7 linked regions of the Homo sapiens genome follow. The protein of the gene in region 5 purifies or fractionates together with the protein of the main gene of each other region. This does not show direct contact. Each region holds a gene or a part of one and is shown on either strand. Other genes may lie near its edges. The genes, in order: TESK2, KIF13B, SRSF12, NAV1, LRFN1, KIF1C and DCLK1.

What was found.
Region 1: the proteins of LRFN1 (region 5) and TESK2 purify together in Homo sapiens (affinity purification with mass spectrometry, with the first as the bait; one large-scale study listed by BioGRID). This does not show direct contact.
Region 2: the proteins of LRFN1 (region 5) and KIF13B purify together in Homo sapiens (affinity purification with mass spectrometry, with the first as the bait; one large-scale study listed by BioGRID). This does not show direct contact.
Region 3: the proteins of LRFN1 (region 5) and SRSF12 purify together in Homo sapiens (affinity purification with mass spectrometry, with the first as the bait; one large-scale study listed by BioGRID). This does not show direct contact.
Region 4: the proteins of LRFN1 (region 5) and NAV1 purify together in Homo sapiens (affinity purification with mass spectrometry, with the first as the bait; one large-scale study listed by BioGRID). This does not show direct contact.
Region 6: the proteins of LRFN1 (region 5) and KIF1C purify together in Homo sapiens (affinity purification with mass spectrometry, with the first as the bait; one large-scale study listed by BioGRID). This does not show direct contact.
Region 7: the proteins of LRFN1 (region 5) and DCLK1 purify together in Homo sapiens (affinity purification with mass spectrometry, with the first as the bait; one large-scale study listed by BioGRID). This does not show direct contact.

The regions. Positions count from the first base shown.
Region 1 is NC_000001.11:45,358,649-45,362,225, forward strand, and holds part of TESK2 (dual specificity testis-specific protein kinase 2), read right to left. Parts: intron 101-3,577; exon of another isoform or gene 4-100; intron 1-3. UniProt on the Homo sapiens protein: Dual specificity protein kinase activity catalyzing autophosphorylation and phosphorylation of exogenous substrates on both serine/threonine and tyrosine residues. Phosphorylates cofilin at 'Ser-3'. May play an important role in spermatogenesis.
Region 2 is NC_000008.11:29,256,541-29,260,117, forward strand, and holds part of KIF13B (kinesin-like protein KIF13B), read right to left. Parts: intron 1-3,577. UniProt on the Homo sapiens protein: Involved in reorganization of the cortical cytoskeleton. Regulates axon formation by promoting the formation of extra axons. May be functionally important for the intracellular trafficking of MAGUKs and associated protein complexes.
Region 3 is NC_000006.12:89,098,203-89,101,085, reverse strand, and holds part of SRSF12 (serine/arginine-rich splicing factor 12), read left to right. Parts: intron 1-2,138; coding exon 2,139-2,508; 3' UTR 2,509-2,883. UniProt on the Homo sapiens protein: Splicing factor that seems to antagonize SR proteins in pre-mRNA splicing regulation.
Region 4 is NC_000001.11:201,808,078-201,811,654, forward strand, and holds part of NAV1 (neuron navigator 1), read left to right. Parts: coding exon 1-72; intron 73-340; coding exon 341-533; exon of another isoform or gene 534-625; coding exon 626-794; intron 795-1,086; coding exon 1,087-1,184; intron 1,185-1,364; coding exon 1,365-1,460; intron 1,461-1,868; coding exon 1,869-2,028; intron 2,029-2,445; coding exon 2,446-2,681; intron 2,682-3,525; coding exon 3,526-3,577. UniProt on the Homo sapiens protein: May be involved in neuronal migration.
Region 5 is NC_000019.10:39,306,054-39,308,529, forward strand, and holds the end of LRFN1 (leucine-rich repeat and fibronectin type III domain-containing protein 1 precursor), read right to left. Parts: coding exon 1,580-2,476; 3' UTR 513-1,579; downstream 1-512. UniProt on the Homo sapiens protein: Promotes neurite outgrowth in hippocampal neurons. Involved in the regulation and maintenance of excitatory synapses. Induces the clustering of excitatory postsynaptic proteins, including DLG4, DLGAP1, GRIA1 and GRIN1.
Region 6 is NC_000017.11:5,021,931-5,025,483, reverse strand, and holds part of KIF1C (kinesin-like protein KIF1C), read right to left. Parts: intron 3,393-3,553; coding exon 2,775-3,392; intron 2,017-2,774; coding exon 1,333-2,016; 3' UTR 1-1,332. UniProt on the Homo sapiens protein: Motor required for the retrograde transport of Golgi vesicles to the endoplasmic reticulum. Has a microtubule plus end-directed motility.
Region 7 is NC_000013.11:36,121,353-36,124,929, forward strand, and holds part of DCLK1 (serine/threonine-protein kinase DCLK1), read right to left. Parts: intron 1-3,577.

The sequences.
Region 1 (3,577 bases), on a different chromosome or scaffold from region 5:
TCATGTCAGACAACGTGCAGACATTAATAAGGTTTGAGGGTAGTACACCTCACACATGCACATGAAAATCCAATCATCGTGCTATGGACTACAAAATGACTACATACTATTACTCATTTTAGAGAAGGCATTTAGAAATTAAGCAACTTGCTTAAAGTTATCCAGTTATTAAGTGGCAGAGACTGGCAGACTCTGCAGTCTGGCTCCAGAGTCCATACTCTTTACCACTACGTTGCACTGGAGACTTAGAGACCACAGCATCTGAGTAAGAGAGCCTCATGCAGCACAGGAGCTCAAAAATGAATTTACTCAAACCTTATATGATGTATTATCTCCCTCCTCCTCCCAAGGGAGAAAAAGAGGGAAATTCCTCTAAGCCTAAAATTTATATCTTAATACATATTTTTGGGTACCATTGCATTTACAAAGGACTAGGGAACTTAATGGGATAAGAGGAGAAATATCTGAATTCTAGCCCAATTCAGCCTCCTAATAGCCATTTAACTTGGACAAATCAACTAATAAGGCTATCCATCTTTCACTTTTCTCAACTATAAGTAGGTATGATAATCCCTGATTCACCTAATTTGCAGTGTTGTTATGAGAATCTAATAAAATATGTGAAAGTTGGCCAGGCGCCGTGGCTCACGCCTGTAATCTCAGCACTTTGGGAGGCCAAGGCGGGCAGATCACCTAAGGTCAGGAGTTCAAGACTAGCCTGGCCAACATAGTGAAACCCCATCTCTACTAAAAATACAAAAATTAGCCGGGCATGGTGGTGGGTGCCTGTAATCCCAGCTACTCGGGAGGCTGAGGCAGGAGAATCACTTGAACCCGGGAGGCGGAGGCTGCAGTGAAGTGAGATTGAGCCACTGCACTCCAGCCTAGGCAACAGAGTGAGACCCTGTCTTGAAAAAAAAATATGTAAAAGTTGGCCAGGCGAGATGGCTCACACCTGTATTCCTAGCACTTTGGGAGGCCAAGGCAGGTGGATCCCCTGAGGCTAGGAGTTCGAGACCAGTCTGGCCAACATGGTGAAACCCCATCTCTACTAAAGATACAAAAATAAGCAGGGCATGGTGGCAGACGACTGTGATCCCAGCTACTTGGGAGGCTGAGGCACGAGAATCACTTGAACCTTGGAGGCAGAGGTTGCGGTGGGCAGAGATCATATCACTGCACTCCAGCCTGGGCAACAGGGTGAGACTCTGTCTCAAAAAAATAATAATAAAATAAAATATGTGAAAGCGCTTCGAAAAAAATTTAAATGTCATATATTTTCTGATGTGGTAATAATATAAGCACCAAAAAGAACCAGTTGGGGGCAGCACCATGCAGCACTTCAGATCCTTGGAAGCGTCGGACCAGTTTTGGCAAGACAGAAAGAATGACTAAAAATAAATCTTCCAACTTCTCAAAAGGGAAACTTGTTGATCTGCTTCATCCTGCTTGATAATCCATCTTTGAAAATCTTAAAATAAGGCATAATGACGGCATAAGCACAGCGCCTTGCTCTCTTCATTCTAGTTGAATCTGCCCAAGATTCACATTTGAGGTGCCCATTTGCTGAAAAGAAACTGAGCTTGTGAACTTCAGGGTTATAAGTGGGCAGTGAAGCTGACATCTAATCATGCAGGCAGATTTCTTTAGCTCTGAAAGTCAAAAGGTAGGCAGTGGTTCACTTCTTTAGCATGATGACAGTGTGATATGTCGGGCCTGTCTTCAGGAGCCACTCAGGTTTCCCAACTGAGTGCCAGGCAGAAGACACTATAATGAAAAGACTGTATGTGCACTCTCTATAGGCCAGGTGACACCAGGACTCTTGGTTCTGGGAAACACTTGTTTACTCTGTTCAGCAGTGTCTCTGAAGGCCCTGGAAATCCATATGCAAAGCCAGAGGGTGGAGAGCACAGGAAAAGGTGACAAAAGATGAGGAATCACACTTGGCTAATAGATTCTGGCTTCTCCAGGCAAACTGGAAAAAGCGCAAACCAAGGACCAGAGAGGGAAAACAAATGGAATTTGCTTTTACAACCCATTTCTCTTGCCTGCCTTTGGTGAATACATTAGTTGGGCTGATAAGCCTGTAGGCCCTCAGAAACCGCTTCTCAATGTTTCAAGACCTCTGCATGCATAAGAAAAGGAAATTTGAGATTTGTCAACAAGGAAGATTTCTTTCTTTTTTTTGAGACGGAGTCTCACTCTGTCCCTCAGGCTGGAGTGCAGTGGCGCCATCTCGGCTCACTGCAACCTCCACCTCCCAGGTTCAAGTGATTCTCCAGCCTCAGCTTCCCGTGTAGCTGGGATTACAGGCTGTGTCACCACACCCAGCTAATTTTTGTATTTTTTAGTAGAGACAGGGTTTTCCCATGTTGGCCAGGCTTGTCTCGAACTCCTGACCTCAGGTGATCCACCCGCCTCAGCCTCCCAAAGTGCTAGGATTACAGGCGTGAGCTACCGCACCCAGCCAGAAGATTGCTACACGGTCTCTGTGCCCATTAGCTGGAATGTTCACTTCTCCATAAGCAACTCCCAGTGCAGACTCAGCTGGTGTGGCCTCTAAACAAATCCCTCTGCAGGAAGCAGAGACAAGAGCAACTGCATTAGCATGTTCAGCTTTCCCGGATGGGGATAACAGCTGCTTTGCTTTCATTTTCAGCTAGACTACTCCCTCGGTCAGCCCTATAAAATGACCCAAGGCATTGGTAATACATTTAATTAATACAGAAGTTTTAATATTTTTAATTGTTGTTATTTTAACCTTTCAAGTTAGAAAACTATAATACAGTCAATAAAATGTGTTATAGATACTTCAATACCTCTCAGTGGCTGTTACCTTTTTCTATACCAACTTTACCTATACCAAAACTTGCCTCACTTCCTCACGGTCTAATAAAATAACAGAGTTTCTTCCATTTCATTTGTGTTTGATACTTGGTTTCATTAAATATATACAGCCTTTTCCTAGAAGGCACTCAATAACTTTCTAAAGTGTATTGGTAATTCAACTATATTATGTAAATAAACCTTTATTACTAAAATGCAAGAAATCATATGCCAACATCTTTTTTAAAATCACCAAAGGCACAGAGAAGTGGACACTCAGTTCTCCACTCAGGAATATCAATTCAGGTTATTTCTACAAACATTTATTGAGCACTCCTCCCCCTACTGCCACTTCCATATGAGAGTAAGAACTTGTCTCTTGGCCAGGCACAGTGGCTCTCGCCTGTAATCCCAGCACTTTGAGAAGCTGATGTGGGAGGATCGCTTGAGGCCAGGAGCTCAAGACCAGCCTGGGCAACATAGCAAGACCCCCACTCAAAAAAAAGATGGTAAATTATATGTTATATGTATTTTACCACGATAGAGAATGTGTGTACAAGTGTCCCCATAGTTCTTTAGTCCCTTCCACTATGTAAGGACACAACAAAAAGACAGGCATTTATGAACCATGAAGTAGGCCCTCACCAAACACTGAATCTGCCTGTGCCTAGATCTTAGATTGCCCAGCCTCCAGAAGTGTGAGAAATAAATTTTTGTTGTTTATAAGCTACCCAGTCTATGATATATTCTT
Region 2 (3,577 bases), on a different chromosome or scaffold from region 5:
TGGGAGCTCCTTTGATGGAAGATCAAGACTTATGCTTCCAGTTTATCCTGCACATCTTTGAAAATGGTGTCATCTCAGGATAGCAAGATCCTCTTAAAGATAATCATGTCCAACATTGTAGTAAAAGCACAGGTGGGTTTTGTAATTCTGGGAATGTTAATTAACCTCTCTGAGGTTCTGCTACATAGAAATGCTACAATTACTACTTTTTTTGTTTGTTTGTTTGTTTGTTTTGAGACAGTCTCGCTCTGTCGCCCAGGCTAGAGTGCAGTGGTGCGATTTCAGCTCACTGCAACCTCCGCCTTCCAGGTTGAAGCGATTATCCCACCTCAGCCTCCTGAGTAGCTGGGATTACAGGCACTCACCACCACACCCAGCTAGTTTCTGTATTTTTAGTAGAGACAGGGTTTCACCATGTTGGCCAGTCTGGTCTCAAACTCCTGGCCTCAAGTGATCCACCCACCTCGGCCTCCCAAAGTGCTGGGAGTACAGGGGTGAGCCACCACACCTGGCCTACAATTCCTTTTCAAAGTCTGGTTTGAAGAATAAAATAATGCATTAAAAAGCATTGAACTCCATTGCTCGCAAATAGAAAGTTGTCAAAAAGCAGCTATTTTCTTTTTCTTCAGTCAACACTGTTGAAATGAATGACTAATGGATACCATTTTCTAAAGATATCTTTATCTCCTCAGAGCGAAAGCCCCATACAGTTAAGTCATGGACTTGCATGGAGTGGACCAGTTAGTTTCACGCACTTCCCAGGTCACAGGGCACACTGCTCATCTTGGTCGAGTTTTTGTTTTTTTTTTTAAAGAACATGCTCTGCCAAACACAAGGGGAACTTGAGGAGCAAGCATAGAGATCAATACATCCATTTCCACTCAATCAGCACTTCAATCCATCTCCTTAATTAATAGTTTTGTCAGTGGTTTCTTCCATTTTCAGCACTTAAGAAGTGGAAAAGTCGGACAGTTATTGTTTTATGGAGGTGAGAGGGTAAAAGCTAATGCCAATTAAACAACATTGTATTTTATATTATAAATGTATATTTCTTGAAAAGAGGTCTGGCCAGCCAGAGCAACAAAGTGAGACCCTATCTCTACAAAAAATATTGAAATTAGACAGACATGGTTGTGCACACCTATGTACCAACTCCACAGCAGGCTGCAGCAGGAATATCGCTAGAGCCCAGGAGGTTGAGGTTGAGGATGCAGTGAGTGATGATCATGCCACTGCACTCCAGCCTGGGCAACAGAGGGAGACCCTGTCTCAAAAAAAATAAATAAATAAAAACAAAGAAACCAACCAACAAACAAAAAACAGGAGATTTGGGGAAAAGAATTTAAAAGTATACCTTCTTCTCAAAATGCCTCTGGCCCTATGTGCATATATCCAAATTTCAGTCACTGAGTTGACAGTAGAAACAAAACAATGTTGTAATACATGTGTGTCTCATTCACCATTAGCATGTCAAGCAGATGCTGACAAAACAAGTATCTTCTGTTTTAGCAAATACTGCCAGAAATTTCCATCCACGGTCCTCCTTGGCTCCACATCTGTCAGTGATCTCTCTGAGAATACTGAAGAATCACCAATGACCCCAGGGGTCAAAGCCACCTTCTCCTGTCCCTTCATTTCCTAAGGGTCACCTCTATCTTCACTGACTACCAGCATCTTCTAAGCTTCCTCGCACTTGCTGGGTTTTTCCTTTGCCTGTTGATTCACAGCTGCTTAATTTTGACCGACTTCCTTATGCTTCCCATTCACAAGGCTTCATTTTCAGCAAGCGCTTTTAAATCCTGCCCAGCTATGCCAGAAATCGGTCATCTACTGAAGCTTCCAATCTTGCTTTGGGATCTAGCAATCTTTCCCCGTTGTGTTTGTGTCCAAGCCCCATACAAGGTCCCAAGAAGCAAAACAGAGTGCGTGGACCAGCCACCCTAGGTCCGGACTTCTGGCCTGGCTGCTTTCAGGGCTTCCTGCAATCCACCTGACCTTTCCTGTCCCATCATTCTCTAGCTATCCTCACAGAATCTCCATTCTGGCAGGCAGATCTCATCTCTGCTGCCTAAACCTGCTTTACTCATTCTAGTCTCTGTGTCCTCACTCTCAGGCCATACTTCCTCCTCAAAGAATACATGCCATCCCCTCTCCCGTGCTCACATCATAAGCTTCCTCCCTGGAAGTCCAACCAAAGTTCACCCTCCTCAGTGAAGTCTAAACTCCTCTCGATTCCCTTATTTCCCTGTCATTCACCTGGCACTTAGTAACTAGCAGCCTGCTACAGCTGTTTACCTTTTAATCTAATCTTTTCACAGGCATTTTCTTTTCAAGCCCATGACAGTCATTTCCTCACAGGCATGAACCATAAAGCATGCTTTAAGAAACTGAATATGATGGTAACAGGCAACCCTAAGAAAACTTTTAGGAAGTAAAATCCCCCTAACAAGAACAATCAATTTCACTTTTTCATGTTTCTTTCTAGCTCTTGCCCATTCCTGTATACATTTTTACATAGTAATAATAATAGATTTGATCAGTTACACGTACAGCTTTACATTCTTTTTCCACTAACAGAGAAAACGATCTTCCTTGTTAAATGGTTTTGACTGTCATCATTTTAATCGCTGTATAATAGTCCCTCCATTGAGATACTAGATCATGATTACCAAGGCACTGACTCTACATTGACTCTATTAGACATTATTACATACTTCTGTGTCTTTCACCACATCAAGTATTGGAAAATGCCAAGTAAACTCATTTGAAATATCTCCTGAAATAAATTTCTTGTCCATTCTCCCTAACACCTGAAATAATCTATTTCACTGTTTCTATCTTCATTTCTTTCGTTTCCCGGTTCTACCCCCTTAGGCTAGGTAGGTAACAAAGGTATTCCAAACACCTTTTATAGATATTTACTTATTTTGGTAGTTGATCTTATACAGATTTACACACAGGAAATCCCTTGAGGAAAAGCATTAAGATCTCATCCTATCTAATATAAGCCAGATACCTGGCAGGCACTCAATCAATGTTTGCTTACCTATTAAATGTTTTTTAAGCCACCTAAAGTTAGAAAACATCAAATTCCTGGAAAGGAGAATGTTGCTGATCTAACTAATCCCACCAATTACGGCTACAGAACTTTCAGCTCCTGTAATGATTAGACGGGTTAATAATGTATGAATGGGTGTTCTGTGCGGCACATGGAAGCACACAAGAATTATCTGTTTAGCTGTACAGTCTGAACAACAACACTGGAAAACAAACGATATCTGCAAATAGAACTTGAAGATCTTGTGACAAAAATTTACCCTTTTCTCTAGTTGTTTAGCTTTGCATCTCAGATGAAGAAAGGCAAAATAAAGGTTGTAATATTAAAATTATGTAAAATTACATACACGTGTGAGCACAAACTGGCATGGAAATGAAAAGCTGTTAGGATGAAGAAAGTATGTGAACTTTTTTCTTTTTCTTTTTCCTTTTGTTAGTGGAATGTTAAAATAAATGTATGACTAGACAAATATTTCTGACAAATTAGCCATTACAACTCTTCCTGTTACTGAATTAGGGC
Region 3 (2,883 bases), on a different chromosome or scaffold from region 5:
CCAGGTTGGGGTGCAATGGCACGATCTTGGCTCACTGCAACCTCTGCCTCCCAGGTTCAAGTGATTGATTCTCTTGCCTCAGCCTCCTAAGTAGCTGGGATTATAGGCATGCACCACCATGCCAGGCTAATTTTTGTATTTTTAGTAGAGATGGGGTTTCACCATGTTAGTCAGGCTGGTCTTGAACTCCTGACCTCAGGTGATCCACTCGCCTTGGCCTCCCAAAGTGGGATTACAGGCATGAGCCACTGCACCCAGTCTAGTTCATTATTTCTTCTGCTATATCTAGATTGCTGTTAAGACCATCTAATGACTTTTTAATTTCAGATATCATATATTTTTAGTTTTAAATGTCTATTTGTTTCTTTTTATAGATTGTAGTTTTCCACTGAACGATCTTTTTATCTGTTTTGTCTTTTCCTCTTATTTTCTTAAATATATTACTCATAGTAATTTTTTAAATTCCTGTTTGATGATGCCAATATCCAAATCACTTTGGGAATGATTCTTTGCCTTTTATTTTCCTTAGTTTTTAGTTATTCTTGCCTGTTTTTTTTTTTTTTAACATAACATGTGGACATGGACAAAAAATTATAGAGGCTCTGCATGACATTATCATTCTCCAAAGACAGTTTTCTTCTGGTAGACAGAGTACTGGCAGATCACTTTGATCTTAAGGCTTGGTTTTGGGTGTTGTTAAAGCTGCTTGTTTTGGCTTTGAATTTATTCCTAGGGCATGGCCCTTACCTCTAGATTGTAGCCCTTCTGGGTTGTTACCTAATGTTCCTCATTGACCTTTTGGGAGTTTGAACTCTAATCTCTCTCTCAGCACTGTGTGTCTGATAAAAATTTCAGCGCAGTTCTTGAATTTCTGAATTCCGGTTTTTTGCTGGTCCCTTGGAATCTCTTCCATACACACACAACTTAGAAGATGGCCAGTGATTTAAGGATAATTTGTAGGCAAATTTTAGAGGTACTTTTTGGTCTCTAATTCACTCTTCTCTAGAGTTTTTGCCTCTCGTGTCCCACCCATTTTGGTAGCCCTGAATTAACTTTTCTCTCTTCAGCTTAGTCAAATAGCCATTTTCTGGTTGGGCTCAACTCCTCCATGCTGTCATTTGAAAAATGGTCTTAGTAAAAGAGCCAAGGCTTGTAATCCCTCAGGTTCTTCCTGCTTGTGTTGATTATCCTCCAGTGCCTTCGAACAGTTGTTTTATAAATGTTGTGTAGCTTTTCAATATAGTTGTTTTCGGCTGGGTGTGGTAGCTCACGCCTGTAATCCCAGCACTTTAGGAGGCCGAGGCAGGGGGATAACCTGAGGTCGGGAGATTGAGACCAGCCTGACCAACATGGAGAAATCCCATCTCTACTGAAAATACAAAGTTAGCTGGGCGTGGTGGCGCATGCCTGTAATCCCAGCTACTCTGGAGGCTGAGAGAGAAGAATTGCTCAAACCTGGGAGGCGGAGGTTGCGGTGAGCTGAGATCGTGCCATTGCACTCTAGCCTGGGCAACAAGAGCGAAACTCCGTCTCAAAAAAAAAAAAAACATGTATGTGTGTGTGTGTGTGTATATATATATACACACATATATATATACACACACATATATATATACACACACATATATACACACATATATATGTGTATATATATACACACATATATATATGTATATATATATGGAGAGAGAGAGAGAGAGCTGTTTTCTATGGGAAGATTAGTCTAATACAAGCTGTTCTGTCATGGCAGGACCCAAAAGTCCTACATCTAGATTTTTATTTTTATAAGCATTATTTGAACTGTAAATAATTGATTTTTTTAATCTTTTTTTCTTCAGATTTTTGTACCTCTTAAGAGCTGTATAACTCAGACCAAATATGCAGTGTATTTTTCAGAACTGATCCCTATATGTCTAGCAAAGTAAAAATTTTTGGCCATATATTCTAGTATAACAAATATTACAAACTTGTTACTTATGTTTGAACCAAAAGCATGCATAATAAAATGAGAAATTTTTTTAGCTTATCTAGTAAAAATATAACTAATGTTATGTAAAGTATGTAAGTTCCTGAAAGTGTTATTTCCTGATCTCTTATTTTGTGTGAAATATATGCTCTAACATTATGGATGTTTGCAGGTCTCGACACAGGCGATTTTCTTATAGCCAGTCTAAATCTCGTTCCAAATCATTACCAAGGCGGTCTACCTCAGCAAGGCAGTCAAGAACTCCAAGAAGGAATTTTGGCTCTAGAGGACGGTCAAGGTCCAAGTCCTTACAAAAGAGGTCCAAGTCAATAGGAAAATCACAGTCAAGTTCACCTCAAAAGCAGACTAGCTCAGGAACAAAATCAAGATCACATGGAAGACATTCTGACTCAATAGCAAGATCCCCGTGTAAATCTCCCAAAGGGTATACCAATTCTGAAACTAAAGTACAAACAGCAAAGCATTCTCATTTTCGGTCACATTCCAGATCTCGAAGTTATCGTCATAAAAACAGTTGGTGAACAGCAACAGAAAGAGCACCACGCCGTCTTTAATATAAGTTATTAAACTCTCATTATGTTAAATAAAAATTCTTTAAGGCATACAGAAAATGCGAGTTGATATTAGTTACTTTGGGCATATGGAAGAAATAAAATCTCTAGCTTTGGATTAATAAAAATTTGGTCTCCATTTAAAGGGCCCACACTACAAATTATGATTTGTCTAATGTCACCATTTTATGGACCATTTTTTATTTACATTGTGGCAGAAGGGTACTTTTCAAGGGAAATGAGTAAACTGGAACTAATTTTTAAAATTCTACTTGCATAGTATTAGTACTATTAATAATACCTTTTACACAAATATTTTTGACTTTAAAGCACTTTCATGTAAAA
Region 4 (3,577 bases), on a different chromosome or scaffold from region 5:
TGGTTCTACAGAGACTGCTTCACCCTCCATCAAGTCCTCCACCTCGTCCTCCGTGGGCACTGATGTCACCGAGTAAGTGCTCTTTGGCTCCCTGCCACCCAGCCTGTTACCAGTGTAAGCTGTGGGCTAGAGTTGACAGGAGGCCATTAGACCTTAGACAAGCAGTACTTATTACTGACCTCTCCCTGGGCATATGAGACCAACAGATGGACCTTTCTTCTCATGCTGATTGAATATCAATGGGCAGGAGAAGCCAAGACCACCAACCATGCCTCTCAATATTCTCTAGTAACTCTAGTGCTTCTTCATGTAGCCTGGCTTGACTCTTGCTATCTTACAGGGGCCCTGCTCACCCAGCCCCCCACACTAGGCTGTTCCATGCAAATGAGGAGGAGGAGCCAGAGAAGAAGGAGGTATCGGAGCTGCGCTCTGAGCTATGGGAGAAGGAAATGAAGCTTACAGACATCCGCTTGGAGGCCCTCAACTCTGCCCACCAACTGGATCAGCTTCGGGAGACCATGCACAACATGCAGGTCAGTGTCTGGGCGGACAGCTGCAGGAAAGGGAAGACCAAGGCTTGCTGTCTGTCCAGTCTGCCACCCTACCCTGTCTGTTCTTGCCACAGTTGGAGGTGGACCTGCTGAAAGCAGAGAATGACCGACTGAAGGTAGCCCCAGGCCCCTCATCAGGCTCCACTCCAGGGCAGGTCCCTGGATCATCTGCATTATCTTCCCCACGCCGCTCCCTAGGCCTGGCACTCACCCATTCCTTCGGCCCCAGTCTTGCAGACACAGGTACCTGTGTGGGAGAAGAATCTATAAGGGTGAAGGGAAGAAAAGGGCTTATTTCACTGTTACACCATTCCACTTGCTTTGGTCAGGGCGGTAACAATGCCGAAGCCAAGCAGATGCCAGTGTCCTAAGACACTGAGTTGTAATGGTCCTTCAACCTTAACTACTTTTGAGTTTGGGACCTCCATTCCTTCTCTGTGGCAAACAGAGTTATTTTGGAAAGGATAATGATGGGAAAGTTTAGGAAAGGCTGCGGGTACTCCTAAAACCAGTTGGTTCTTTTCAATCCCCACAGACCTGTCACCCATGGATGGCATCAGTACTTGTGGTCCAAAGGAGGAAGTGACCCTCCGGGTGGTGGTGAGGATGCCCCCGCAGCACATCATCAAAGGGGTAAGGAACTTCAGGGAGAGCCACAGTGGGAATGAACAAATACTGTTACATTTATCCAAGAAAATCTGGACCCTGGGTACCTCCAAAACCAAAGAACTCAACTCCTAAGGCCTTTAGGACCCCGGTTCATGGAGTCATCTGCAGTGAAGCTCAAGAGCTTTTCCTTCCTTGGCCTTACAGGACTTGAAGCAGCAGGAATTCTTCCTGGGCTGTAGCAAGGTCAGTGGAAAAGTTGACTGGAAGATGCTGGATGAAGCTGTTTTCCAAGTGTTCAAGGTAAAGGGATACCTGTACTCAAAAAGGTTGTTCATCCTCTCGTGGAATATATATACTTTTTTAGAGACAGGGTCTCACTCTTGCCACCCAGGCTGGAGGGCAGTGGCGTGATCACAGCTCACTGCAGCCTTGAACTCTTGGGCTTAAGTAATTCTCCTGTCGCAGCCTCCTGAGTAGCTGGGATTACAAGCATGTGCCACCATGCATGGCTTCTCACAGGATATTAAACCGTCCAGGCACTGGGATCCTGGGGACCTTTGAGGCTTTATGGAGAAATGCTACCTAGGAAAAGCATATGCTCTGCACTTTCTCCATCTATTTCTGTTTCCTCTGATAGACATTCTTTGTTGTGGCTTTTACACCTGTGTTTGTATATTTTCTTCTTCTTCTGCCTGTCTTTTCTGTCAGGACTATATTTCTAAAATGGACCCAGCCTCTACCCTGGGACTAAGCACTGAGTCCATCCATGGCTACAGCATCAGCCACGTGAAACGAGTGTTGGATGCAGAGCCCCCCGAGATGCCTCCTTGCCGTCGAGGTGTCAATAACATATCAGTCTCCCTCAAAGGTCAGTCTTTGTCTCTTGGGGTGAGGTGGTGTGGCATGAAGGCAGGGACAGGATCATCAAATAATCCATCATGCATTCATTCACCAAGAACTCACTGAGAAGGTATAATATGAAGATGCTTAAGTAATGTGAGATATAAAAAGATGAGTAAGACCCAGTCCTAACTTTGGCTCCCAGGGACACTTTTGCTAAGCCTTGGCTTCTTGCTTCACTCCTCACCCCCAGCTCACAGCATGTCCCTAAAAAGAAGATCTAAGTTTTCAAAACTAGGGGTTAAGGGACTCTTATGGAACCATGGGGCAAGTGGCTCTGAGTTTCTTCAGGGGGCTCCTAGATAAAGAAAGAAAAGCCCTTTAGGATCCCTTGCTATCCTCAAGACCCTGGTCAATACTCATGCTTTCTGGGGTGGGGGTTCAGGTCTGAAGGAGAAATGCGTCGACAGCCTGGTGTTCGAGACGCTGATCCCCAAGCCGATGATGCAGCACTACATAAGCCTCCTGCTGAAGCACCGGCGCCTCGTCCTCTCGGGCCCCAGCGGCACGGGCAAGACCTACCTGACCAATCGCTTGGCCGAGTACCTGGTGGAGCGCTCTGGCCGTGAGGTCACAGAGGGCATCGTCAGCACCTTCAACATGCACCAGCAGTCTTGCAAGGTGGCTGCCCCCCGACACCCCTGCCAGCCTTTGTTCATGCCTCAGCCTTCCCTAAGACCCTTCCTCGGCCCCTTCCTGCCTCATTGTTCCCTTTTCCTCACCTCTGCCTTCATCTTTCTTCTCTTCTGTGTTCATTTCCTTCCCTCTCTATCTATCCCCTTTTCCAGTCTTCTCCTTTCCCTCCCCACGATTTCTTTCCAGCCTCTTGCCTTTAACTTGTTTCTCCACACTTTCCCTTGCCTTTATGGAGAAAGGCTTTCCTCTCCACACTTTTCCTTGCTTTGTGCACCTTCCTCCTCAGTTGGTCATTGATGAAACTGCATTCTCCTCATTTCTACCCCACTGTCTGCCAACCCTGTCAATCCCATCCCTTCTCTTTTGTTCTCTTCCTTCTACTTTTCTTTTCAGTATTACTCTCTGACCTTGGGCTATCTGGGAAGAAGCACTCAGAATTAAATGGTACATATTACACCCTCCCCTGCCAAAACCTGATGATGTCTCTTGAGTACCCTAATACAATGGAGTTGGTTCAGATCTTTGCTCTTCCCAGCTCGGGGAGGCATGCCCATTAGTAGTAGTCCATGGTACCAGTGAAAATCCATCTAGGAAATAGCATATGTTCCCCAACTTTGGGGAATTTAGGGGCTGCTGCTTAAGAGGGTTGCTTTAGAGCCTTTGCAACCACTGCTTATCACTCTGTGGTAATCTGCTGTAATCAAATTTGCAAGGAACTAAAGGCCCCAGGGGAATCTAGATCTAGTAAGACTTCTTCAAAATCCTGATTTCCAAGGCCGATCCAGCTGCTTATTCCCAAGTGCTGACCCACAGCCTTCTTTTATTCCAGGATCTGCAACTGTATCTTTCCAACCTAGCCAACCAGATAGACCGGGAAACAG
Region 5 (2,476 bases):
GACTTTGTCACAAGAAATTATCTGTCTGTCAGTCTCAAATTCCAGAGACATTTACAAGCTAAATTCTATCTCCTGGACCCATTTATTTTCCCCAAAATCATTTATTACCCCTCAAAATTGCCTTCCTTTCCCCATCTCCCCTCCTGTGAAGAAAGGTATATAAGTATATAAACCTCACTGGGTTATTGGGTAATCACTTTCCTGTGATTTTCCTAGTGCATGTTAAATACCCTCCATATTCCTTTTCTCTTGTTAATCTATTGTCAGCCCATTCCAGTGAAATTTCAGAGAGTGAAGGGGAAGCTGTCTTTTCACCCCTATAGTAGAGACTCAGAAGTTGGCCTGCCTGCCTTTTTAAATCCCAGTTTTACCACCTTGGGCCAGTTATTTAACTTTTCTGGGCCAAAATTCCCTCATCTGGAAAACAGGATAATAATACCGATATGTCCTGGTGTTGTGAGAATTAAATGACTTAAGTGCTTGGCACATAGTAAGTAAGTATTCACTAAGCGTTAGCTATTATGATCATTTTATTTTTGTGATTATTCCCCACCTCTAAGTCTCTCAGAGGATAAAAGCCTGTCTGCCAGTCTCCTCCGGCCCCAGTTAGTCATCTTCCCATCTTCCTTCAGTCTCACTTAGAGTCCTTATGCTGCAATCTAGGTCACCCTCCCCCAACACACACACACACACACACACACACACACACACACACACACTACACGCGGACACACATACAGACACACACACAGGTCAGCAGGGCCTCAGACACAGAAAAAAGTTTAATTCTGCTGCGGCGGAGGGTCCCGGCTCCGGTAGGGAGGGGGATTTGGTTTTGGATTTTGTTCGTGTGGGGATTTATTTGGGAGAGTCTGGTCCTTCCAGTGGGACCTGCCCGGGAGAATGAGTAAAGAGAAGAAATCAGGAGAGACAGGGAGACTAGACAAAACCAGGGAGGGCCGAGGGACAAGAGACGACAGGACAGAGAGAAAGGAGAGGCAAATAGGGAAAGACAGGCACTACAGAGAGACGACAAGAGGGCGGGATAGAGACAAACGAGGGAAACAGAGAAAGGGGGACCCCAAGCCAGACCCGACCGGACCAGGAATGTGCGTGGGGTGGGGTGGGAGGCTTTGGAGGCCGCCGCGGGACAGAATAGGATCTAGTCCAGCCAGATACAAGAAATGGGCCCCTCGCCCCGGCCCCGGGTGACGGGCTGGGGGAGGGGGCTCGTGTCTCAGTGCTGCAGTGTCAGGGGGCCCTGCCCCTCCCCGCGCTTCGCTGTGTAAGGCACCGGCTCCAGCGAGGTCCGCGAGCGCGCGAGGGGAGGGGTAGGAGGGGGGTCGAGGAGTCCATAGGGGAAGGGAGGCCGGCAGCCGGTCCCCGAACCCCGCCCTGGGCACGGGGGCGTGGCCTCGAGCCGCAGCCCGAGGCTGCCCCGCCCCCTCCCGGGGACAAGGGCGCGTCTCCACTCTGGTCCAATGTCTTGGCGCTGCGCTTTCTCCCAGTCCCGCCCCAGCGTCCGTGCGGCTGGGCGTTTGGTCTGCGGCACCCAGGCGTCCCGGCGCCCGCCCGCCGCTCACACGGTACTCTCCAGCATCCACTCGGTGCTGGTGAAAGCCAGGCACGCCCTGGCGGAGCCCAGCCCCAGGTCTCCATCCTCCCCGGCCGCGCCCCCTCCAGCCCCGTCCAGGTGCGGCGTGGACCGGTGGCGCTTTGTCCGCCGGGCGCGGCGCGGGTAACTGTGGCTCTGGAATAGTGCCCCGTAGTCCCCGTCGAACGAATAGCGCTGCTGCGGCCTCGGCCGGGCCGCGGCTCCCCCAGGAACTAGAGCTAGAGTAGGGGGCGCCGAGGTTGGTGGCTCCAGGGCGCCGGATCGGCTCCTTCGAGGGCCCACCGCGGCCCGAGACTCCTCCCCGGAAGTTTCCTCGGATGGCAGCAGGCACAGCGAGGTGGCCGAGCCGCCCAGAGAACGTCCAAGGACCACCTCCGGCTCCGCGGATGCCGTCTCGGCCTCCATGGCCTTGGCCTCGACGGCGACGGCGGGGGCAGCCTGGGACTCCACCTCGCGCAGCGCCTCGTAGTGGTCCTGGGCCGGCAGGGCCGGGGCCTGTGCCGCGCCTGTGCCTGCGCCGTTGGTCTGCGAGCACACGTGGCTGACCCGCGGGAGCGACCTGGAGCCCTTGACGCGGCGGCTGTCCCCGTCGCCATACACCTTATAGCGGATCATGAGCAGAACGATGAAGACGAGGACCGAGGCGACGATGACGCCCCCGATGGCGATGATCATGGTGCCGCCCAAGAAATGGGCCCTCAGCGGGCGGCAGGGCGCCGGATCCCCAGCGGTGGTGAACTGTACACAGCCCACCACTCGCGTTGCCGGCAGCGCTGTGGCCCCGTCGTCGTAGACCGCCAGCACGCACAAGTCGTAGGCACGGCCCGCCGCCAGGTCATTCACCAGGAAGGTCTGACTGGT
Region 6 (3,553 bases), on a different chromosome or scaffold from region 5:
TGCCAGAAGGCAGGTAACACAACCAGGATGAAAACAATCAGGTAAGCGCAGTATGCTTGCCCAACCCATTCACTATCAAGAGAAACTGGCTGCTTGGGAGACCTTTCAAGTAAGTTAGGTGACTTAAAGCAGAACTCCTCTGTACCCCACAAATCCTTCTGTATCTGTCAGCAACAGCCAGTTAAGCATTGACAGGCTGGCGGTCCCTCTACCTCCCCTCGCATCCCCGCTTCTGTGCTTTGTCCATAACAGACAGTGGTGCTGCTGGCACAGACTGAGACACTGGGTAAGCAAACATGAAAGCAGGGGAGGCCGGGCGCGGTGGCTCACACCTGTAATCCCACCACTTTGGGAGGCCAAGGTGGGCGGATCACTTGAGGTCATCAGGAGTTCGAGACCAGCCTGGCCAATATGGTGAAACCTCGTCACTACAAAAAAAACAGTAATGAGCCGGGCGTGGTGGCACATGCCTGTAATCCCAGCTACTCAGGAGGCGGAGGCTGCAGTGAGCCAAGACTGTACCTCCAGCCTGGGCAACAAAGCAAGACCCTGTCTCCCAAAAAAAAAAAGCGGGGAAAAGATCGGGCTGCGCACCCTGAAGGAAGAGACAGGAGGGTGAAGTTCAGGAAGACAAGATGGAAACATTCTTATATCCAGATCTGGGTGGTGCCTGCACAGAGCACACATACAATACTTCACTGATAAGTATGCTTAAGACCTGTGCCATTGCCTTATATAACCTACACCTCCATGAAAACCCAAAACAAACAGGCCACAAGCTCCCTGTTTGCTATCCTTTATTAAAGGGCCCACATCCTCATGGGACTCCAGCCAAACCAGTCAGGTCCCCCAAATATAGCAGGAGGCCTGGAAGGGGAGGGGAATGACTTATGATCCTACCATGCCTCCCAAGAAACAGAAACCACCACAGACAGACAGACAGACGGACAGGGGCTGGGGAGAACTTGCCTCACTCTCAGTCCTCTCCCACTTTCCCCCACTTGAAAAGAAAGTCAAACACTGGCTACGCAGCACCCCAGCCCCCCACCCCACCCATAGCAGCGTTTGTGGGACACACCCCCTTTGCAAGGGGTGGCCCCGAGGCAGCTTCCTATCTCTCTCTTCACTTTGGTTTGCTCCTGGCAACTCCGTGCCCTCTTCCTTTCCTCAGCCTCCGGCTCGGTCTCCCCCTTGTCTTCTATCACCTACTCGGACCTTCTCTCTCATCTCCTGGGCCTCCCTGCCCCAGCACTTCTGGGGAAGCAGCGTCTCGGGCGTCTTCCCTTCTCCTAGCAAGGGGCCCCACCAGGCCCTCTGCCCAGGATGTGGGACTCACACAGCTGCCCCACTCTCCTTGAGGTCAGGGGCAGAACGCTGCCGTCTCATTCGTGGGGGAGTAGTGTATGGGGGGTAGCGGGGCCCTGGGGGCCGCTGGGCTGGGTAGGGTTGGGGTGGCTGGGGATAAGAGTTGTGCTTTTTGGGCTGGAAGTGCTGGGGTTCAGGCTGTGCAGAACCCGCTCCCCGGGATCGGCCCCCTCCATCCAGGGAGTTCCTGCGGGGATGGTGGGACCTTCGGGGACTCGGAGGCCGGCGGGCAGGGGTGGCTGGATGGGGAGTGACCTCCTCAGGGGGTTGGAGCGGAGTTGGAGCCTCCCCGCTCCCCATCCCTGGCCAAGACTCCCGGTGCTGGGGGTTGCTCTTGAAGGGGAAGCGTAGCTTGCAGTCGTGAGGGGGCACAAAGCGGGCTGGGGGCCTGCGCAGCCCCCCGCCCCGGCCCCCAGAGCCCTGCAGTCCCTGCAGCCGTAGCTGCTCCTGCTTGAGCCAGCGAAGACGACCACGACGGAAGGCAGGGTCCTCCTCCATGAGCCGTGACACCCGCTCCCAGCTTGACAGTGGTGGCGAGGGGGGCCGGGCTGACGGCATGCGGTCACTGGGGGCTGCCTCCTCTGCTGCCTCTGATCCTTCAGGCGGGGCCCAGGGGACCTCACCACCTTCTTCATTCTCATCCTCATGATCCTGGGAGGGAGGAGTGAGAAAAGGAGAAGGGATGTGAGGAGAGCTGAATCCTCAGGACATGTGGATTCAAGAGGGACCTGGAGTGGCTGGATGTCAAAGGGTCCAGAGAAAAGCCTAGAGATAAGGAAGCTCGAAAAATAGTGGTTTAGGGCCGGGCGCAGTGGCTCACGCCTGTAATCGCAGCACTTTGGGAAGCTGAGGTGGGCGGATCACAAGGTCAAGAGATCAAGACCATCCTGGCCAACATGGTGAAACCCCGTCTCTACTAAAATACAAAAAAAAAAAATTAGCCGGGTGTGGTGGTGCGCGCCTGTAGTCCCAGCTACTCAGGAGGCTGAGGCAGGAGAATGGCTTGAACCTGGGAGGCGGAAGTTGCAGTGAGCCGAGATTGTGCCACTGCACTCCAGACTGGCAACAGAGCAAGACTTCACCTCAGAAACAAAACAAAACTGCAAACTTTATATCAGTGGGTCTTAGACTTCACTGTATTTCAGAAACACCCAGAGCTTATTATAAATGCAGATTTGTCCCCAAAGATGTGGATTCAGTAGGTCTGGGGTGGAACCCGGGAATCTATTTTAATTAGCAGCCTGGTGACAGCGAGGCATGTGGTTCGTAAACAATATTGAAAAAAACGTACTATACTTCAATGCAATTTTTTCCAGACTTGGGGAAGGTTAGGCTCTGAGATGGAAGGTTCAGACTCCTAAAGTGAAGAGCCGAGGGAGGAGAGAAGGGAGGCAGAAGGCCAGTCCTACCTGGGCCAGGGGGATGACCCTCTCCATGCGGAGCATGCGGTCCCGCAGGGCCTGCAGCTCCCGGTCCTTGCTGCTGTTCTGCAGCTTCACCTCCTGCAGAATCCCCGTCAGCTTGTCGATGTGGGCCCGGAGGTCCTCCACCTCCGCCCCTCGGGCTCCCTCCTCACTGCCACCACCACTGCCAGCTCCACCTCCTTCCTCCTCGCCTACAGTGTCCCAGACATCCCGGGCCACAGCCCTCCAGGCGTCTCCGGGGCCGTCTGGCTTGCCATAGGTGCGACACAGCTCCCGCATCTTGAGGGCGGCCAGGGCCTCAATCTCAGCCCGCCCGTGGCGGAAGTCAGCCAGGGCCACCTCGTAGCAGATCTCCTTCACCGCCTGCATCTTCAGGTCAGCCATGGTGGCCCAGCGGGGGTCTTTGCCCTGCAGCCTGCGTCGCTGGGGGATCTGATAAACCCTGCGAGGGGCCCTGCGCTTGCCACTGCTGGGCAGACCACAGCGTTTGACAATGGTCTGGACCGTGGTGGGCGGCAGCTGCTCCCGCAAGGAGGAGATGAGCCTCCAGCTCTCTTCACAAGAGCGCTTGTCAGAGTCATCCCCGCTGTCCGAGTCTGCATACTGGGGCCAGAGAAAGAAAGAGGAAGAGAGGGCTAAGGACATCCAGAGCCCATGTGTCTTGGCCCAGTGTGTCCTAAGTACACTGGAAACACGCCCATCAGGGAGCCTGGGTTCAAGTCCTGCTCCACCCCAACAGCGCACCCTTGGGCAGACTGCTTAAC
Region 7 (3,577 bases), on a different chromosome or scaffold from region 5:
AAAAATATTACATGAAAAAATCCAGAAAGAGACAATTCAGGAGTTTTAAACTGCATGCAGTTCTGAGTAGTGTGATGAACTCTCACGCCATCTTGCTTCTTCCATCTCTATCACAAGAAGGGCAAGTACAGTACAAAAGGATGTTTTGAGAGAGACGCCACATTCACATAACTTTTATTATAGTATATTGTTATAATTGTTCCATTGTATTTGTTATTGTTGTTAATTTCTTGCCATGCCTAATTTATAAATTAAACTTTATCATATACCTTGCATCATATACATACCTTTATCATAGGTATGTATTCACAGGAAAAAAAGCACAGTATACACAGGGTTCAGTACTATTTGCAGTTTCAGGCAACCACTGGGTGTCATAGAACGTATTTCCTTCCAGGATAAGGGGGCATTGCTGTATATGTGTCCTTCACATGCACTGGTATCTCTGAGAGGACCCTCAAGAAACTAGTAGGCTGGGCACAGTGCCTCACGCCTGAAATCCCAGCATTTTGGGAGGCTGAGGTGGGTGGATGGCTTGAGCCCAGGAGTTTGAGACCAGCCTGGGAAACATGGCAAAACCCTGTTTTTTGTTTTTGCTTTTGTTTTTAAAGAAAGAAAAAAGAAAAGAAAAAGAAACTAGTAAAGTGGTCCCCTCTGAGGAATTTTAGGAAGAGCAAATTTTATATCTATTCAAAAATTAATTTTAAAAAATTCATTATAGCAAGGAGAGGCATAGAGAAAGCCAGTGAAATAGGGAAATAAAGTAGAGGATGCTCTATTAGGGAATAGGAAAAGATGGGTAACCCAGAGGCTGTGGTAGGAAAGAGATTCCCTAACTGTGGGGTGAAGCATGGGTTTAATCCTGAGAGGGGGATTATGATAGAAACTTGGAAAAAGCCCTTATGCAAACTGCAGCTCCAGAGTCAGGCAACGTCCATACAGGGTTAGTGAAAAGCCAAGGCATACATGAGAACCAAAGAAGAAGAGGGACTCATCTCTAATAGCGCAGATCTGATGAACAAATTCACTTACTTGTATCCAGAAGATTACATATCTACAGAGTTTTTATCTTAATGTTTAAAGAAAATGTTCTGGCCCTCTCACATGTACATTTTCATAAGATGTTAAAAGAAGGACAAATCAGTCAATCCATCAATGCTCCAGGTTTACATTACATCTTTCTCCTAAGAGTTCAAAGGCTTTAAATGTGACACCTTTATTTATCATCACAACATTTACCTACCTACAGTAGAATATAGATGGTGCAAAATTGGGGGAAATGAGGCCAAGTCTCAAGATGAATCACTTGCGGAAATAGGCCTGCAATTCAACTTTCCTTATTAAGCATCATGATTTTTTTAAAAAAACATATTAAGGCCATTTTGAAAGCAAACAAGAGTGTCACCTTTGGAATGCTCTTAAGTGTATGTGTGTGAATATGTGTGTATATACATACATATGTGCATAGGTGACACACATACAATCATAGACACACACATTCACACTGACTATATGATTTTGGCTCAGCTAAATACATACAGCTAGCTCTACCAACATGCTTAAACCACACTTAGGCATAATAATCCATAGATAAAAACAAAACAGTGACAGTGACCACAAGACTGTCATAGATAAAGAAATTCACAAATATTGTAATTCAGAATTTTTAGTCTGAGAGCAAGTGAGAAAGAGCAAGAAAATAACTATAAGTCCAATACACTTGCCACTGCACCCACTAAAAGGATTTAATTTAAAACTCAAACATCATCATATTGGAAGGGGAAATGAAAAGCTAATAACATGCACTGACGTTTACATAAAATTAGTATGTAAAGTCAGAGATATGAGCCTAATGATGAATATGAACCAACGGTTTGCATTTTAACAGACTAAGCAAAAAATGTAATTGACAAAGAGGCGAATCTAAATGAATTTCCAGCTATTTAAACACTAAGTGCAGCTGCATGCTAATTGTCAGTGTTATGAATTAGAAAAAAAATCTGTTTAAATGAAAATTCAAAAAATAAATGCAGCCAACATGGTGAACTCACACACTGTACCAAAGTTACCATTCATTCAATCAGATAATTTTTTTTTCCCAAAAAAGTCATTTTTAAACATCAGAATATTCAGTCGGCAGTTACTTCACATTGATTGAGGGGAAAAACTCAATATAGTAGTTGAATTCATAGCACACAGCATCTTAGAGGTAGTTATGAGCTCAAGCTTTGGCACTAGCCTTCCTGGGTTCAAATCCTAACTCTACCATTTCTTTCTTTGTGAGTTTGAGCAGATCATTTAACCACACTGTACCTTCCTTTTCTCACCTTAATATAAGGATAACAGTTCCCACCTCCTAGGATCATTGTGAGAATTAAATGTATTCATATATGCAGGGATTTGGCCAGTGCCTGGCACATGCTCAATAACTGAGAGCTATCATTATTACCTTCAGTCAAGACATCAGTCCCTCAGAGAAAGCATTATTTTGCAGTAAAAGACAAAGAAGATGGTGACAAGCATGCCATAATTTTGCTGGTCCCTAGATGTGAAGGGAGTACTGTCATCTACCACCTCCCAGACCCTCTCCTTGGTGGATGGGAGTCATTGGAGTATCTTCGGCCACTTCTAAGTAAAGATCATTTCTGGGTGGGAAACTGATTGAAGTACCCCAACCCCCATAGATGCTACACAAGTGACTCTGGAACAGAGTGAGGTGTCAACCCATGGCTGTCTTAGGATGTGCTTTGAGATCTTGCCATATTTTTCCCTACAGTACTACCGGCCCTCAGAGGGACGGCTTGTTGACTGGTCATGCACCTGACTTTGCGTATAACTTTTATCCAGATCCCCTAGACTATACCACCAAATGTTTCATTTAACCTTGGATTTCCAAAGGTCATGCAAAGGACAGGGCACAGAAATTAAAGCTGAAACAGTAAAATTTCATGTTAATTCTTCTCCTTTAATTTACTGGAAGTTCCACCCTCTGAATAGAAGGAAAAAGGCCAAGTCCACAGGCATGTTGGCAGCATGTCAAGTCACCGAAAAGGGATGTGAATTCCCACAAAATAAACACAGGCTCCTCTGCACGCTCTCAAGGCCAGTCACACTGTGATCAGGCTGGCATTTCTGCCAAGGGATGAAGGGAAGCAAAAAGGGAGAAGTCCCCAGCCTTGAATCACATACATACACTGGTTACAAAGCAGGACAAGAGGGCTCTGTCAGTGTGCGGTCAGGGGAGAGCAGCCCCCAACTCCAACGGGGCTGCAACGGGTGCTTCCTGCTACCTGCACAAGAGAGGGAGGGATTATATGGCATCCCTCCTGGACCCAGTTGAGTTACACGGCCTGAGCAAATAGTTCTGGAGTAAAAATGAACTCAAGGTGAAATCAAGCTCTTCCAACACTCCATCCAACCTCCCTTTCCCAGATTCTTTTGTGCCATCTACTTCTTCATCATCAGGGCCTTGAGATCTCAATTTCAGAAAAATCAACCCTCCAAAAAGGATCTGCTAGCTTTTTTTGCACCTTGGTATACATTTAATCCCAGTCTTTTTTCTCCAACTCATTTTAAT